Regions from separate parts of the Homo sapiens genome. Here regions 2 and 3 are each reported to be linked to region 1. The links are microRNA targets in miRTarBase. Many come from high-throughput screens and were not tested one by one. Region 1 holds a microRNA gene; each other region holds the end of a gene's coding sequence.
Evidence for each region. The annotated mature microRNA hsa-miR-1468-3p reads AGCAAAAUAAGCAAAUGGAAAA and lies in region 1 at 2,865-2,886, opposite strand. An mRNA with a match to its seed (bases 2 to 7 or 8) in the 3' UTR can be bound and repressed. Matches are read on the target gene's strand: a 7mer-m8 pairs with bases 2 to 8, a 7mer-A1 pairs with bases 2 to 7 and ends in A, and an 8mer does both.

Region 2: miRTarBase lists CNOT4 as a target of hsa-miR-1468-3p. The part of its 3' UTR that is shown has no 7-base or 8-base seed match.
Region 3: the mRNA of C19orf44 is a reported target of hsa-miR-1468-3p. The part of its 3' UTR that is shown has no 7-base or 8-base seed match.

What each region holds. Positions count from the first base shown.
Region 1 is chrX:63,783,148-63,788,220 of GRCh38, forward strand. It overlaps MIR1468 (microRNA 1468), which reads right to left and starts at 2,940; the gene lies at 2,855-2,940. ARHGEF9 (Cdc42 guanine nucleotide exchange factor 9) reads right to left here and starts at 2,067. Exons shown (of 10, transcript NM_001353921.2): 1 at 1,969-2,067. The coding sequence starts at 1,998.
Region 2 is chr7:135,358,375-135,363,447 of GRCh38, reverse strand. CNOT4 (CCR4-NOT transcription complex subunit 4) reads left to right here. Exons shown (of 12, transcript NM_001190850.2): 12 at 262-1,653. The coding sequence ends at 563. Among named protein-coding and RNA genes, the nearest start is that of STRA8, 130 kb to the right of the region's middle.
Region 3 is chr19:16,516,743-16,521,815 of GRCh38, reverse strand. C19orf44 (chromosome 19 open reading frame 44) reads right to left here. Exons shown (of 9, transcript NM_032207.4): 8 at 4,475-4,586; 9 at 464-1,722. The coding sequence ends at 4,515. CHERP (calcium homeostasis endoplasmic reticulum protein) reads left to right here. Exons shown (of 17, transcript NM_006387.6): 12 at 162-295; 13 at 904-990; 14 at 1,309-1,452; 15 at 1,551-1,667; 16 at 2,101-2,195; 17 at 2,464-3,922. The coding sequence ends at 2,657. Among named protein-coding and RNA genes, the nearest start is that of C19orf44, 23 kb to the right of the region's middle.

The DNA.
Region 1 (5,073 bases):
CCTGTTGTCAATGAGTGGCTCTGGGCCCCTATACTTCAATATATTTGGGAGAGGAAGTAAGTCTCACCCTGACCCAGTTCCCAGTTGCCAGAAATGCCAGGACTGGCATGGATTTTTTTCGGGTAATTTTTTTTTTTTTTTTTTGAGATGGAGTTTCGCTCTTGTTGCTCAGGCTGGACTGCAACGGCACAATCTCGGCTCACCGCAACCTCCCCCTCCTGGGTTCGAGTGATTCTCCTGCCTCAGCCTCAGGCATGTGCCACTACGTCCAGCTAATTTTGTCTTTTTAGTAGAGACGGGGTTTCTCCACGTTGGTCAGGCTGTTCTTGAGCTCCCGACCTCAGATGATCCACCCGCCTCGGCCTCCCAAAGTGCTGGGATTACAGGCGTGGGCGGCCGCGCCCGGCTTTCAGGTAAATTTAATGGCACTAGATCATCCTGAAGAAAGTCCTTTCCCAAGATCATGACTATGTTCCTTTCTTCCCCTCTCAGCACCATTTGAGCAAATGATTGGTGGAGCAGTGGGGAAGGACTGTGGCAGTCAGGAGACTCAAGTGCTAGACTCAGCTTTGCCTCCAAGGAGTTTGTGGTCCTGGGCAAGTCTCTCCCACTCTCTGGATCCCAGCTTTCCTGGCTGGACAGCAAGGACTCTAAGGTCTTTACCTGCTCTAATCTTTTCTGGTTCTACAAACATTTGATGCAGCTTTAATGGGACCTCAGGGAAGTAGGGAGGTCTGGGAAGAAGGGTCTTTTGAAGCCCCAGCACATAGGCATATGAACCGGATGCCCTTAAGAACCACTGAAACAGAGATCTAACAAAACTCTGAGGAAGGGAAGAGGACAGCCCCTCTGAATATAGTCCTAGCCCACACCAGATTCCCTCTTCCCCTCCACAATGAAAGCAAAAATGGAGTTAAATATCAGTTTTTGCCCAACCACTTCAGGCTACTTTCCTTCATCTGCGGGTTATGGGTGGCAGCGTAGAAGTGTGGGCTATTGCCATCAGTGCCTGCTGACCCAACCTAACTGCCTTCTAAGGCCCTTTTGCTTATGCCTCCCAGCTGAGGACAAAGTCATGGGGGCCTCCCACTCCCCAGAGGCCCTAACCAGGCTTAAGCTGCTCCTGGCTAAGTCAGAGAGGCATCAAAATGCAGCCACCACTTCCTCTCTGCAAAAGGAAGTCATTCCAAGGTCTCCAGGTGGAGAAGGGAACACCATGGCATAAAATGAACTGTTGGAGGATTATACTAAACACACACACAAGCACACACTCCTTGGGAGGGAGAGAAGAGCTCTGTTAACTGACTGTGGCCCAAGCCCATTTCCAGAATGTGGGTTTCTGCAGCTGTCTCTCCTTGACAAAGCCCCAAGTGTGGACAGGGTGACCCCAGCCCGGACAAGGAAGGGCTTTAGGGCTCCCTCAGGCAGCTTCCTGAGAGAGAGAGAGTGGCTCTCTGGCCCTCATGCTCTGGGGCTGACCAGGGAAAGGAGTTGCAGAAAATCTAGTTGGGGGCAGGGGGGAGTCATGCAGCTCTCCCATAAGGCCCCCTCCACAATTCCAGGCTTTGTGACCGTCCCCTCCCCCCACAACCCCGTGCCAGCTTGTCAGCCTCCTGCGAGCTTCACTGCTTCCAGAGAAGCCCTCTGCCATCCCCCTTCCCTCTCTGGCCTCCCAAGTGACCCCTGGGATGTTCCTGGGCACATAATCTGGCCCCCACCCCTATTCCACCTTAATCTCAGAGGGAGATAGAAAAGTGGAGGGGGATGGTAGGGGGGTTTCCTGGGCAGGCAGGCTAGCAGGGACTCCTAAAATGGCCACAGCAAGCTCACTGGTGTCTCAAGGACGGCGGCTAGGGCGGTGGGCAGAGGCCAGGGTGCTCACTGCCTTGTGGCTCGTTGGAGGAACTGGAGGTGGGGCTGGGGGACTGAGAGGCTCAAGCAAGGGAAGCCAAGGTTACATGCACTCACCATTCCCGATCCGCCCCTTATCCACTGCATGGTGCTTGCGAAGTCCGGCTTCTCTGAGGCCCCGTAGCTGGCGCGAGTTGTCGCGGGCTGACTAGAAGGGCTGGGCTGAAGCAAGCGAGAGCCCCAGCGCCCCCTCCGCCGCCCCTCCTCCACAGCCCTACAACCCAATCCCCTCCGCCCCGGACCTCGCCTTCAGTCAGTTTGTTCCATGCCAACCGGCAGGCTCTGTCTCTCCGCCCTGCTGCTCCTAGAGGTCTTGGCAGGGAGAGGTGCGAGTGTGGGGGGGTCCTAATGGGCTGCTTTTGTCCCCCACCAAGGCTTGAGAACTGTGGGGGTGGGGTGCAGGGAGAGGATGGGGGCGAATAGCCTCCGCCCGCCCAGGAGAAGGCAGCTGCTACCTCTGCCTGCCTCCCGCTGCGCTGGAGTTAGATGCTGTTTATTGTGGGGCTTCCCAATTGTGTCGAGTCAGCGGAAAGTCCTTTCCAAAGTTACCAGAGGTGTTGTGCCAATCTCCAGAATAATAAGATCCTGCCCCAGTGGAGCCAAGCCAGCACTCTCATGCCTCCCTCCCCCACCCTCCCTCTGCATACTCCCCTAGGGTCTTCTCTCTTTGTGTACTATCTGAGAGCTTTCATCTGCATTACTTTCACTTCTCAGAACAACCCTGTAGAGGCAGCCATTAGTATCTCCAAGTTATAGATAAATAAATGGAGGTTTGGAAGAGGGAAGGGGCATAAGGTCACATTAAAGAAAAAAAAAAGATAAATCCTCGACTTTACCCTCTGCGGCTTTCCAAGCCTCTTTCGGCTATCTCTCCCTTTCTATCTCACACACACCACTCCAGGCTTCTCCTTCATGCCCTTAGGAACATGAAAGGTAGCTTGTTGATGGACGAATTTTCCATTTGCTTATTTTGCTGAGAATGAGTTGAATGCACATCAGCGAAACAGGCAAACGGAGAAACCACCCACCTCTTTATGATTCCCCCAACTCTGGGGAACACAACACAGGCTGGTACCTTTGCTTAGGCTAAAAATTGACTTTGTCAGTCACACTAACATCTGTTATTATCCCTTATAATCCTCACAGTAACTCTATGAGATGGACACAACAAGGATTCTTAATTGCCCACCATTACAGACTTGAACACTGAAGCCCAGAGATTGAAAGACTTCTGCTTAAAGTAGCACAGCCAAACAAGACAAGAATCCAAGGCTCCTGACTAGAAGAGCAGGTCAGGCAAAGACAGAATTGCAAAAACAGAGGTTGCAACCAAAGTAAAAGGAGTTACAGTATGATATTAGAAAGAAGTTCCTGGAGATAATTGACATGAAGACATCACTGGCCTGTTACACGTACTTTATTTGTCCTCTTCTTTTTAGCACAACTTCTGCACTTCATCCAACCTGTTGTTTTGTCCATGCAGAGCTGGGCAAAGATAGAAGCAGTACCTTAATGAGCACCCCATCATGGGAGGTGTACAAGCAGAAGCTGAATGACCCTTTGGCAAGGGATTCCTGAATCAAATGGGAGGTTGCCCTGGATGACCTTTCAACTTCCCTCCCAAGTCTGGTAACCCAGGCATCAGTGATTCCACAATGTTCTCTCACTTTCCCATCTCTGGGCCTTCTTTCATGCTCAGTATCTTGGATGCACCTCCCCTGCCAACCAGCCCATTCAAACTGTCATGACTGTTCAAGATCTGGCACCAGGCACACCACCTTTAGAAAGCTTTCCAGGAATACCTCCAGGCCCTGATTTTGTCATCTTTCATTTGATTCCTATAGCACTACGATTTCACTGTCTCGATTAAAAATGATCTTTTTATTTCCTGGATGTTACGGGCTGAATTGTTTTCCCCCAAAATTTATATGTTGAAGTCCTTCCAGTACCTCAGAATCTGATGACTCGGAGAAGACAGTCATCTAAACAGCAAGCCAAGGAGAGAGGCCTCAGAAGACCCAACCCCACTGATACCTTGTTCTCAGACTTCTGGCCTCCAGGATTATAAGAAACTCAATTTCTGTTGTTTAAGCCACAGAGTCTGTGGTATTTTGTTATGGCACAGCCCTAGCGAACTAACACAATGGTCATATGAACATTTTACTGTCCCCTTTCACTTAAATGGCATTATGTGTTTTTGAAGCAGTGGCAATGAATTACTAATTTCTGCATCTTCTACAACAGTGACTGGCACATAGTAAATACCCAATAAAAACTTGGAATTTTTTGATGGATGCATTCATTCAACATTATCATTTAGCCCCTGTGTGCCAGGCATTGTGACAGATGCTCAGGATACAAGACAAAGTTCCTCATGGACCTTACAATCTACTTACAGAAGAGAGATAGACAATAAATAAGTAAACAAACAAAAATATTTAGAGATTGTAATATGTGCTCTGAAGGATATAAACCAATTTATGTGATGTGAGTAGCCCTGGAATTGTGGAAAGTATCTGTGCCGGTCATGGTCCAATCAGGAAAATAAAAACCACCCTAGGTCTTTTAAACTGCGAGCATTTAATGCATGACACTTACAGAGCTAACAAGCCAGACAGAGGATGAGGATGCAGCAACCTAGCATTTAACAAACACAGAAAGCTGCTACCACTCGTAGGGATGGACGGATAACAGATGAAGCCATGCAGAAGCTAAAATCATGGGTTGGACAGCCTATTGGAAGCAGGTGCCATGAATGGAAGAGTTGTTCAAGAGGAGCTGGAGCCATGGAGGAATACAGCTACCACCAGAAAACACCTCTCTGATACAGGTGGTGGGAGAAATACCCTGGGTTCTCCCTTCCTCCTAGCCACCAATCTCCTGTACATGTCTCCCATTGGACAAAAGAAGTGAGAAAGCAAGGAAATCTAACAAATGTAATTTTCAGGAGAAGAGTGGAGAATGGATCTGGATGCAAACAGGCCAGTGTTAATATAAAGCCTAGGGACTCCTGCAAAAAACAGGTGCCTAGAGACTCCTGCAAAAAACGTGTTGATCCCAGAGGTGTAAATAGATGCTGTTGAATCCAGTCATTATGTCTTGAGCACCTATTTGCCTAGAACCATATGAGTAGTTAGAGGAGACATAATGTAGTTGGTAGGG
Region 2 (5,073 bases), not on the chromosome of region 1:
AGTTCTGGGGAATGGTGTTTTGCAGCTCTGCCTCTGTGACAGTGGGGGACTAAGTCTAGTTCAAGAGGAGGCATGGGTTTGTGTGCCAATAAGTTCTTTGTTGTTGGGGGAGGATTGGTTTAAAAGGTCTTATTTGGAAGGAGTTTAAAATTGTAATCTCTTCTGTCTTTCCTTTTGGTTTTGCTTTCTAAATTTGTTTGACGACCTTATTCTTTCCACACAAACTCACCATTTTCCCTCTTTTTTCTTTTCTCTCCTTAGGTATTCCAGCGTCTTCAGGAAACAGTTTAGACTCTCTTCAAGATGACAATCCTCCACACTGGCTAAAATCCCTTCAGGCCCTCACAGAGATGGACGGCCCCAGCGCTGCTCCATCACAGACCCACCACAGCGCCCCCTTCAGCACACAGATCCCGCTGCACAGAGCCAGTTGGAATCCCTACCCTCCTCCTTCAAACCCTTCCAGCTTCCACTCCCCACCCCCAGGCTTTCAGACAGCCTTCAGACCCCCCAGCAAAACCCCCACAGATTTACTACAGAGTTCAACACTGGACCGCCATTAGGCAAAGAGGAGCAACCATTAGAAAATGCAGGATTTGTCCCACTCTGTTTTCTCCCTCTCAGCCCACCACCCACAGCTCCCTTCTCATCTCTTATGTTCTGAAGAATCCAGTACCTGATCAATTTTTTTTCTCCCTAACCCCAGATGCAATGCGATCACAGGGTCATTACCATCTCTTTATTAATTGTAAAAATTTTTGTTGATCCAGCATTTGAGTGACACTGTTGAATGTTTCTAAAAATGCCTTTTTAAGGAGAGAAAAAAAAATCAAAGGGCAGTCTCAATACTTAGAAAATTATTGTTTGTCTGTTGCGCATAATAATGACATAATCTGCTTAGCAGAAAATGACGATTAATCTATAGGAAAGCTCAAGTAAATGCATTATCAACTGCAGAAGTTTGAAAACCAGGTTCATTTACGTGAGATTGCTAAATGCATGGGGGAAAGCAGTGGTCCTAGCATCCATCTTGTATTCAGCTTATCATTATTGCAGGGAAAATGCTTTTAATTTAAATTAATTTTTAATTCTTTTGGCAAGTTGATGGCAAGGACTTGATTGTGTCATTAAGCAAAAGAATGTATTGGAAGTTGATGGAAAGACAAATTCATCTGTAGTAGTAACTGGCCGATTGCTAAAGAGTTCATAAGGAGGTGAGAAGTAATTTTTTTAAAGGAGAAAAATTTTTTGGCTTTAGATTTAAAGTAAATTGAAATGTTTTAAAGAAAAAAGTATTCACAGATTTAATACCTATTAATAATATAAGAGCTGAAATGTAAGTCATTTCTTCAGTCCTTCTCCTCTGTCGGAATCTTTTTTGTTTTACCATAAATTCACCTGACGAGGGCACTCTGAGATAGCACTGCTCTGGGGCCATCTGATCACCATCGGGAGCAAATCTCTGACCTCCTTGCCTGCAGCTTTTACTTAACCCTGTAGTTTCTGGACGTTTGTGCAGTATTGAAAAGACAGGAGAAAAGAAAACAGAAACCTGGTTATAACCTGACGCTAAAACTAAAAACAAGGAAATGTACCTCTTTCTTCAGAATTAAAACTAAAATCTTAAATAAAACAGAAAACTTGATGGTGACACTTGGGTTGTCCTTGTTTTTGTTTTTCTGTTTTGTTGGATGTGAGTTTGAAAGGTTTTGTGACAAGTAGCCATCAGATGTTTCCATTTGATTTTACATCTTCAACAGTGGGGAGGGAGGATGGTTTAGAAGAAGAAAGTGGAGGAGAAACAACCATTTTATTGACAGTCAATGGCATCCTTGACGTTCAGCCCATCTTGTCCTCAAGAATCCCTCTTCCAGTGCCTTTCAGTAGAAGATTCCTCTTTCTGCTATTGTATTATGCATGCCAAGCCTTCCCAACTGAGAAGCCTTATGTGCCAGTAATGGAGAGGTTATTGACATGTTGAGATGTTGGTTCTCTTTAGGGAGACCTGGCAGGAGCAGCAGTCACTATGTCACACAAGTGGCATCTCTTTGTGAGTGCCATGATGGGAAAGAGATCGGGAAACACTGATGTAGATGATCCACAGACACATCTTTTATGACTGACCATTTTAGGAAGTACCTGTTGATGGGGCAACGATCGCACCACTGACCAAAAGAGGGTAGAGGATGAAAGTTACCTGTTCCCCAACAGAGCACCAGGATCTGTGTGGTTTGTATGTCTTGCCTTGGGCTGCATTCAGAAGCCCAAAGCTGGAACTGGCATATTTTCAGCCATGTCCATTAAGGGATGTGATGTAGGATCAACTAAATAGATCTAGATCGTACGTTCTGTGCTTTCAGGTGGGTTTTTTTCGTCCTTACCTTTATGCTGTACTTTAATTTGTTAAAATTTCAACACAATTTTTAGAAACTTAAACATGATATTCTCAAATAAATGTCACCAGAAATAGATGGTGATCAAGTGGATAGTAAATTGTTTTGTAAAACTAACAAAATTTCCCTGGATAAGAGGAGAGGACTAGAAATGACAGGCTCTCTTTGCCCTTGAACTTCACTTCAGTCTCCTGAACCTTCACATTGTACTGCAAAGTGATGGACCAATGCACAAATAATATTCAGATGGCAGTGAATTGTAATCAAGGCTTTTTGCGGGGATGCGGGGAAGTCCTGAGATGGGCATATCAATAAAAATGTTGCTTTTTTTGTAAAAGGAGGGAACTCCTACCTTATAAGGCTGTGCTGTAATTGTGTGTGTGTTTAATCAGTCATACAGAAGAGTTTATAAAAAGCATGACTTTATAAAAAGTATGAAGAATAAAAATAATAATGACCTGTGTGTCTACCACCAAGGTTAAAAATAGAGGCCAGGCATGGTGGCTCATGCCTGTAAGCTCAGCACTTTGGGAGGCCGAGGCGGGCAGATCACTGTAGGTCAGGAGTTCGAGACCAGCCTGGCTAACATGGTGAAACCCCATTTCTACTAAAACTACAAAACAAAAATTAGCTGGGCATGGTGGCTCGTGCCTATAATCCCAGCTATTCGGGAGGCTGAGGCAAGAGAATCTCTTGAACTCAAGAGGCAGAGGTTGCAGTGAGTCCAGGTCACACCATTGCACTCCAGCTTGGGCAACAAGAGTGAGACTCCGTCTCAAAAAAAAAAAAAAAAAAATAGAACCTCTGGTATCTTAAAACCTCTATTTGCCCCTCTCCAGTTAGACTTCATTTTCTTTCCTTATCGTTTCAAATAGCCATTATTTTAATTTCTGTGTTAATCTTCAAGAGTTTTGCCAGCTATGTATCTATCCCTGAATAGATTGTTTAGTTTTAAAAAGCTGAGTAATAAACCCAAGCCTAGCTGTAGAAGGAAAGGGTGATGTTGTCACTATTAGATTAAGACTTTTAGGAGAAGATAAACTAAATAGCTTCTGGGGCATAGTTTGGCTTTAGCGTCTCCGATCATTTATGAAAGCCTCTTAGAAGTACAGTGGCCAAGGTTATGAGTGAGTCCTGGAAAACAGGGCTTGCCAGTTGGGGTAGGTCTTGTCAGGTAAGCACAGTCCCGGGTGTCTGGCAGAAATATGGTCTACAGGATCAGTTTGCTGTCTGTTTCCTGTGTCAAAGCTCACCATGGCTTCCCTCCAGTCCTCTGGAGTAGATCACAGACACTTAGTGAATTAAGTGTCTTAACCCTTTGGGGTGAGAGGTGGCGTTTAAAACAAGTGTCAGCTGATTAATTCACCAGGGCTTGGCGGGGAGAACAGAAACTTCATTAGGCTTGGTCAAAATCAGAAAGTACAGAAAAGAGCCTGAACCAAACTGACTTAGGTGGCCTGTTGGTATAATAGCAGTGGGAATCTTGGTACTGACAGCTGTCATGGATCACAGTACTCAGATCTGGTACACAGCAGTCATTTCTAGTATTTCACTTTGTTCTCTCTCCTTTCTTAGATGATCTTCCTATATTCCTAGATCCCACACCCTAGTCTTTTATTTATTTATTTTTTTAAATCTCATTTTGCTGGAGTGACATCCTCCAGTATTTCTTAAGGAAAGGTACATGGGAGATAAATATTTTAGTAATTTGCTTGTCTGAAATAATATTTAATTCTACTTCTCAGTTGATAGTTTGGTAAATACAGGATTCTAGGTTGTAGATATTTTTTTCTGCAGAAATTTAAAGGCTTATTAACTTCTTGCTTCCAGTTTTGTTGTTGAACAATCCAAAGATGCTGTTATCCTCTATATGTAATCTTTCTCCCTCTCTGGAAGCTTGTAGCAAGTTTGTCTTCTGTGTTCTGGAATTCCATAGTGATCTCCCTTGGTGTGGGTCTATTTTATTTTATTTATTTATTTATTTATTATTTTTTTTATTATTATTTATTTATTTATTTTTTGAGACGGATTCTCACTCTGTTGCCCAGGCTGGAGGGCAGTGGTGCGATCTTGGCTCACTGCAACCTCCGTCTCTCAGGTTCAAGTAATCCTTCTGCCTCAGCCTCTCAGGTAGCTGGGATTACAGGTGCCCACCACCACGCCTGGCTAAGTTTTGTATTTTTAGTAGAAACAGGGTTTCACCATGTTGACCAGGCTGGTCTCAAACTCCTGACCTCAGGTGATCTGCCTGCCTCGGCCTCCCAAGGTGCTGGGATTACAGGCGTGAGCCACTGCTCCCAGCCAGGTGGGGGTCTATTTTAATTCATTTTGGTGGACACAGTGGACATACAGTATGCTTTTAAAATCTTATGACTCATTTTCTTCAGTTCTCGGAAATTTTCTTGAATTATTAGTGAACTTCTTGCACTTACTTTCTCTGTTCTCCCTTTCTAAAAATTCTATTATTTAAATACTAGACTTTCTGGACTTCTGCTTTTTAAAATATTTTCTCCAATTTTCTATCTGTGTCTTTGGCTCTTCTTTCTAGGAAGTTTTTTTCTCAACTTTATAGTTTTCTTCTCCTTGTGTTGTCTGTTTCTCCAAGTTGCTTTTATCTGTTTGCTTTAATTTCTGTCTTCCTTGTTAGAGACTTCTACACTTGATCTTAGCCAAAAGGCCA
Region 3 (5,073 bases), not on the chromosome of region 1:
AGAGAGTGGGATCCCCAAGAGGGAAGCATGAGGAGCTCTGGTGCCCAGGGTACCCTTGACACTGAACCTGGGCCCTGCCCTGACCCCACTCCTTGCAGACCCTGGGTGGGCCTGAGAGGGCTCTGCCCAGGCATGGTGACAGCTGGGGTTCTCTGCTGCAGCTGGAAGATCACGAGTACAAGCCTTTGGACCCTAAAGACATCCGCCTCCCACCCCCCATGCCGCCCAGCGAGAGGCTGCTGGCTGCAGTGGAGGCCTTCTACAGCCCCCCGTCCCACGACAGGCCCAGGAACAGGTAAGGGGCCCAGGTCAGTGGGGTGGGCGGGAGGCCTCTGTCCCCTCTCCCGGCTCCCTGCAACCACACCTTCTGTCCAGGCTAGAAAATGTGGCTGTCCCTCAGGAGAAACTGCCCTCCCCCCGCCTGAGTGACAAGTGTGTGTCACAGGCACAGCACACACGTGGCCCTCAATGAAGGGCGTTTTAATGGAGACACATCAGAAGAAGTTAGGGAAGGTGTGGCACGGCGGCACGTCTCAAGCAGCCGGCTGCCACAGGGCCCTCAGCCCACCCTTCCCAGTGGTCACCCCTCCTTCCTGTGCTGGGCTGCAGGCCTGTCCACCCATGAGTCAGTGTTCCTGTTTCCCAGTTCCACAGACCATGGGTCCCCACCACCTCAGCGGAACAGCAGGGTGGCAAGGGCGTGGGCACCAGAGGAGCCACTGGGCTGCAGGAGGACAGCCCTGTGGGAACACTGAACCAAGCTCTACTGCGCCCATGCTCGGAGCCCACAGCCACAGGGCCATGTACTCTCCAAGGTTCTGTGGATTAACTCCTGATGACTTTTTCACGACTTCCTTGTGGGTGGGTGTCACGTGGTCACACACGGAATGCCGTGTCTTACAGTGAAGGCTGGGAGCAGAACGGCCTCTATGAGTTCTTCCGAGCAAAAATGCGGGCCCGGCGGAGGAAAGGCCAGGAGAAGAGGAACAGGTAAAAGCGCAGATGTCTGCAGTGGCCGGGGGGCCAGGGTCCACAGCTTGTGATGGGTGGGAGCAGACCCCAGATACACTCATCACGTCCACCCTCACACAGCCTGTGCCTATGGGGCGGTGTTTTCCACAAGGCCTGAATTCACACAGCAGCAGGCTCGGCCACACTATTTAGGAACTTGGTACCGTTGCTGTGGCTATGGCGCCACATCCACAGCCAGAGCCCCTGCATCTGGGGTGGTCTAGGAACCTGAGGGCCAGGGTGGGCTGGGTGCAGCCCATCCACTGGGGCACCTGATCATCAGGCCTCTCCCCACAGCGGACCCTCGAGGTCTCGGAGCAGATCCAAGAGTCGAGGGCGTTCTTCCTCCCGCTCCAACTCAAGATCCTCCAAGTCTTCAGGCTCGTACTCAAGGTCAAGGTCGCGCTCCTGCTCCCGTTCCTACTCCCGCTCCAGATCTAGGTAGGCAGAGGCTGCCTCAGGGCAGTGCCTGAGGCCTCTTCCTGTGGCCTCCCCACGACGCCTGGCTGCTGCTGACCCTTGGGCACCCTTCCCTGCAGAAGTCGGAGCAGGTCGCGCTCCTCCAGAAGCCGCTCCCGGTCCCAGTCGCGGTCCCGGTCCAAGTCGTACTCCCCAGGAAGAAGACGCCGGTCACGGTCCAGGAGCCCCACCCCGCCGTAAGATCCTGTCTTAAGTGCTGCGCTGGTAACTCTGGGAAGCTGCGGTGCTTTGCTGTGAATGTGGAAACATTGGTGGTTAGGAGACTGTGTTAGGAGGCCGCCAGCATTAGCCCGGGGACAGTGGCACCCCTCACCCTTCACCACAGTAGCCACTTGGCGAAGCCTGAGGCAGTAACTGGGGTCTGCTTTCTAACCACCATCTGGGTTGGAGGTGTCCTGCTCTCAATGCTGAGCGTGGGGTGGGGGCCAGCGTCTGGAGCCCCCTTATCTAGCTGAGACAGGATAAACGGGTAGAGACGCAAAATCTGCATACGGTGTCACCTGGTGACAGTGAGCATGCACGCAAGCTGCGGCTGTGAGGTCCTCATCACTGTCATTCCAATAAATGTCTCAGTTACTTCTTAAAAAGAATAACCTGTCTCGATTTTAGTTCCTCTGCTGGTCTGGGTTCTAATTCGGCGCCTCCCATCCCTGACTCAAGGCTCGGAGAAGAGAACAAAGGCCATCAGATGCTGGTGAAGATGGGTAAGGCGAGGGAATGGGGAGGGCGCGGGATGGGTCCTCACGCGTGCTGGGCCCGGGAGTCACCAGCGCTTTCTCTTCCTCAGTGCATGTGGGGATGGATGGAGTCAGGCCGGTTCTGACTCCACCCAGACCCTCTAGACAGGGCCGGCCTGCGGGTTCTCTCTACCCATTTCCCATGTCTACACTGCCTGTCTGGACATTCAGCCCCCCACGTGCACCCCCATCTGCCTCCGCCTTGTTGTGGTTGTGACTGCGTCTCTGTTTCCAGGCTGGAGCGGCTCAGGCGGCCTCGGTGCGAAGGAGCAAGGGATCCAGGACCCCATCAAGGGCGGGGACGTCCGGGATAAGTGGGACCAGTATAAAGGCGTGGGCGTGGCTCTGGATGACCCCTATGAGAACTACCGCAGGAACAAGAGCTACTCCTTCATCGCCCGCATGAAGGCCAGGGACGAGTGTAAGTAGGCGCCCATGCCGGGAGCCGCGCCGGTGGCCAGCGGTGCCGGCTGTGGGACCTTCCTGGCTGACTGGCAGAGGAAGATTGCAGTGACAGCTCAGTTCTTACACCGTCTCCACTTGTGGAGAGCCACAGGAAGAGAAGGAAGACCAGCGCATGCCCAGTGGGAACGCCGTGCTCCATGGCGTGGAGGGCACGGGTGCCACCCACAAACCACACCAGGAGGCGCTGCAGCCACCAGGGCCCCAGGCTCGTTTTCCTTTATAGCGAAGCAAAAAACACAAGACCCTCCGCCCGAGTAAATTCTTCAGCCACGAAGGGATGGATGTGCATCTGCCCTAAGTCAGATTGAAGCCTCCTCCTAGGCTCCAGGAGGAGCATGTGCAGGAAGGGTTGGCCTGAGCCAGAGCCGGCACCCCAGCTCCTTCCTCCAGCTCCCCGCACCCACCGGCCCTGACCTGGCTTCCCCTCGGCTGTGTAGGGACAAAGCCGAAGCCCAGTGCCATGACTGCCCGCGGATTGAAAAACAGAAACACAAAACTTTGACTTGACTTGCGAAGTGAAGCAGGGTTTTCATTTTTACTCTCCTTGGTTTAGGTCTAGAAAGAAGAATACTGACCTGAGAGGAGGCCCAGTGAGATTCTGAAACCTAATTCTTCGAAGGCGTACTGGCCCTTAGTTCAGTTATTTTAGTTGTATAAGTTGATATTTTTTTTCTGGAATGTAGCCATTTGCTGTTATCTGGGAAACAAGATTCTAACAGGAAACCAGCCTAAGACACTTCAGGTTGAGCGCTGCCTCGGAGTCTGTGCCCGTCGCGTCCCCTGCTTGAGTTTTGCACTTGGAAGAACCCTGCACCGGCTGGCGTGTGCGACGGCCCAGTCCCATCCAGAGCATGGAGCCCGACCCCAGCCAGCGCCTTCCACTCCATCATTTCATTTCACACCCCCGAAGGGAGGGGAGGCCAGGAGGGGAGCTGCTCCTGCCAGAAGCTGGTGGGTGACCGTTGGGAATCGGCCACACCTGGTGTCCATGGGCAGCCTGGTGCAATTCCATTCATTTGTACAGAAACATTTTTGAAAAATTCTTTTCAATAAGATGCAAAATCTTCCAACTTTTCAACCCAACGTGATGAATATTTGATTTTGTTCTAGATTTCCTGTAGCTGTGAATTGTTAAAATGTATGATTCAGGATAAAACGTAAACACGTGCTGTTAGTAATTTCTTGTGGATTTCATTGTTTTGCCTTCAAATAAAGCCTTTTTTTAAAGACCTTTCTCCCGCACATGTGTAAGTCAGAAGTGTGCACGGGCTGAGTGAGGAGACACATGTCCTGGTTTGAGCTGTGCAGCCTGGGGTCAGAGGCCGTGTCCAGGGGCTCACATGGCGTCCCCAGCGTGCTGACCTGGTCCCATGTCCTTACCCTCGAGCAGGGCTTCTCCCATCCACCCTGTCTCCCTCTGGCTCACTGGGATGCCAGGACCTGCCTGGGTGGAGCTGCTCTGCAGAGGCTGGTGGCCCCTGTCCTGCTGTGAGTGGGGACAGCTCCACTGAAATTCTATTTCCACTGGCCTGTGGTGTCATAGAGCTGGGCATGCTGCTGGGAGAGCTGTCACTGAGCTGGGATTTGGCTCAGAGGAGTCTGGGGCCCTCACCGCAGCACCACCTGCCCCACCATGGAATGTCACACCTGGATGCTGACTGTGTGTGTGTGTGTCCATCACCCCAGTACCACCTGCCCCCACCACGGAACGTCACACTTGGACACTGATGAGCTCTATGTTTGTGTGCGTGTGTGTGCACTGAGTACACAGGACGGGATACCTTTTGTTAAGACGTCACGTCAAGCTCCACCTGCTGGCGCTCACAGCTCCTTGTTCACCTCCTCCAGGGCATCCTCCATGGTCAGTGGGGCAGGTCTGTGGCACCTAATGTACTGTCAGGCAGAGAACAGACCACGCCATCACCATCGTCACCTCAGTACACTCTGAGACAGGGTGCTGGAGGAGGGAGTGGAGCCAGCACCTGTCCCCAGCAGGCTCCTGTCAGTGACAGAAGTGTAAAACCACAGGATGTGTGTGACAGGTTGGCGCACGGGGCTGTGGGAACACAGGGTAGAGGGTCAGCCCTGCGAGGGGTGAGCCCTGACAGAGAAAGGGAGGGGTGCCTGTGAGTGCCCTTGGAGTGGCTGAGATCAGGGAGAAGCGCCTGGAGCAAGCAGCTGGGAGCTATGGTGGGCTGCAGCCAGGTGGCACAGTCAGATGGCTTCTGCCTGCATCGGATGGGCTGATGGACGCCCAACAGAGGCATGAGTTCAAAGCCCCCAGAGGGCTGCAATGAGCAAAGTTGACATTGTAGAGACCCGTGGGACTCACAACCTGCCCTCTTCAGCAGATAAACCACAAGGAAACGAGAGGCCTGGC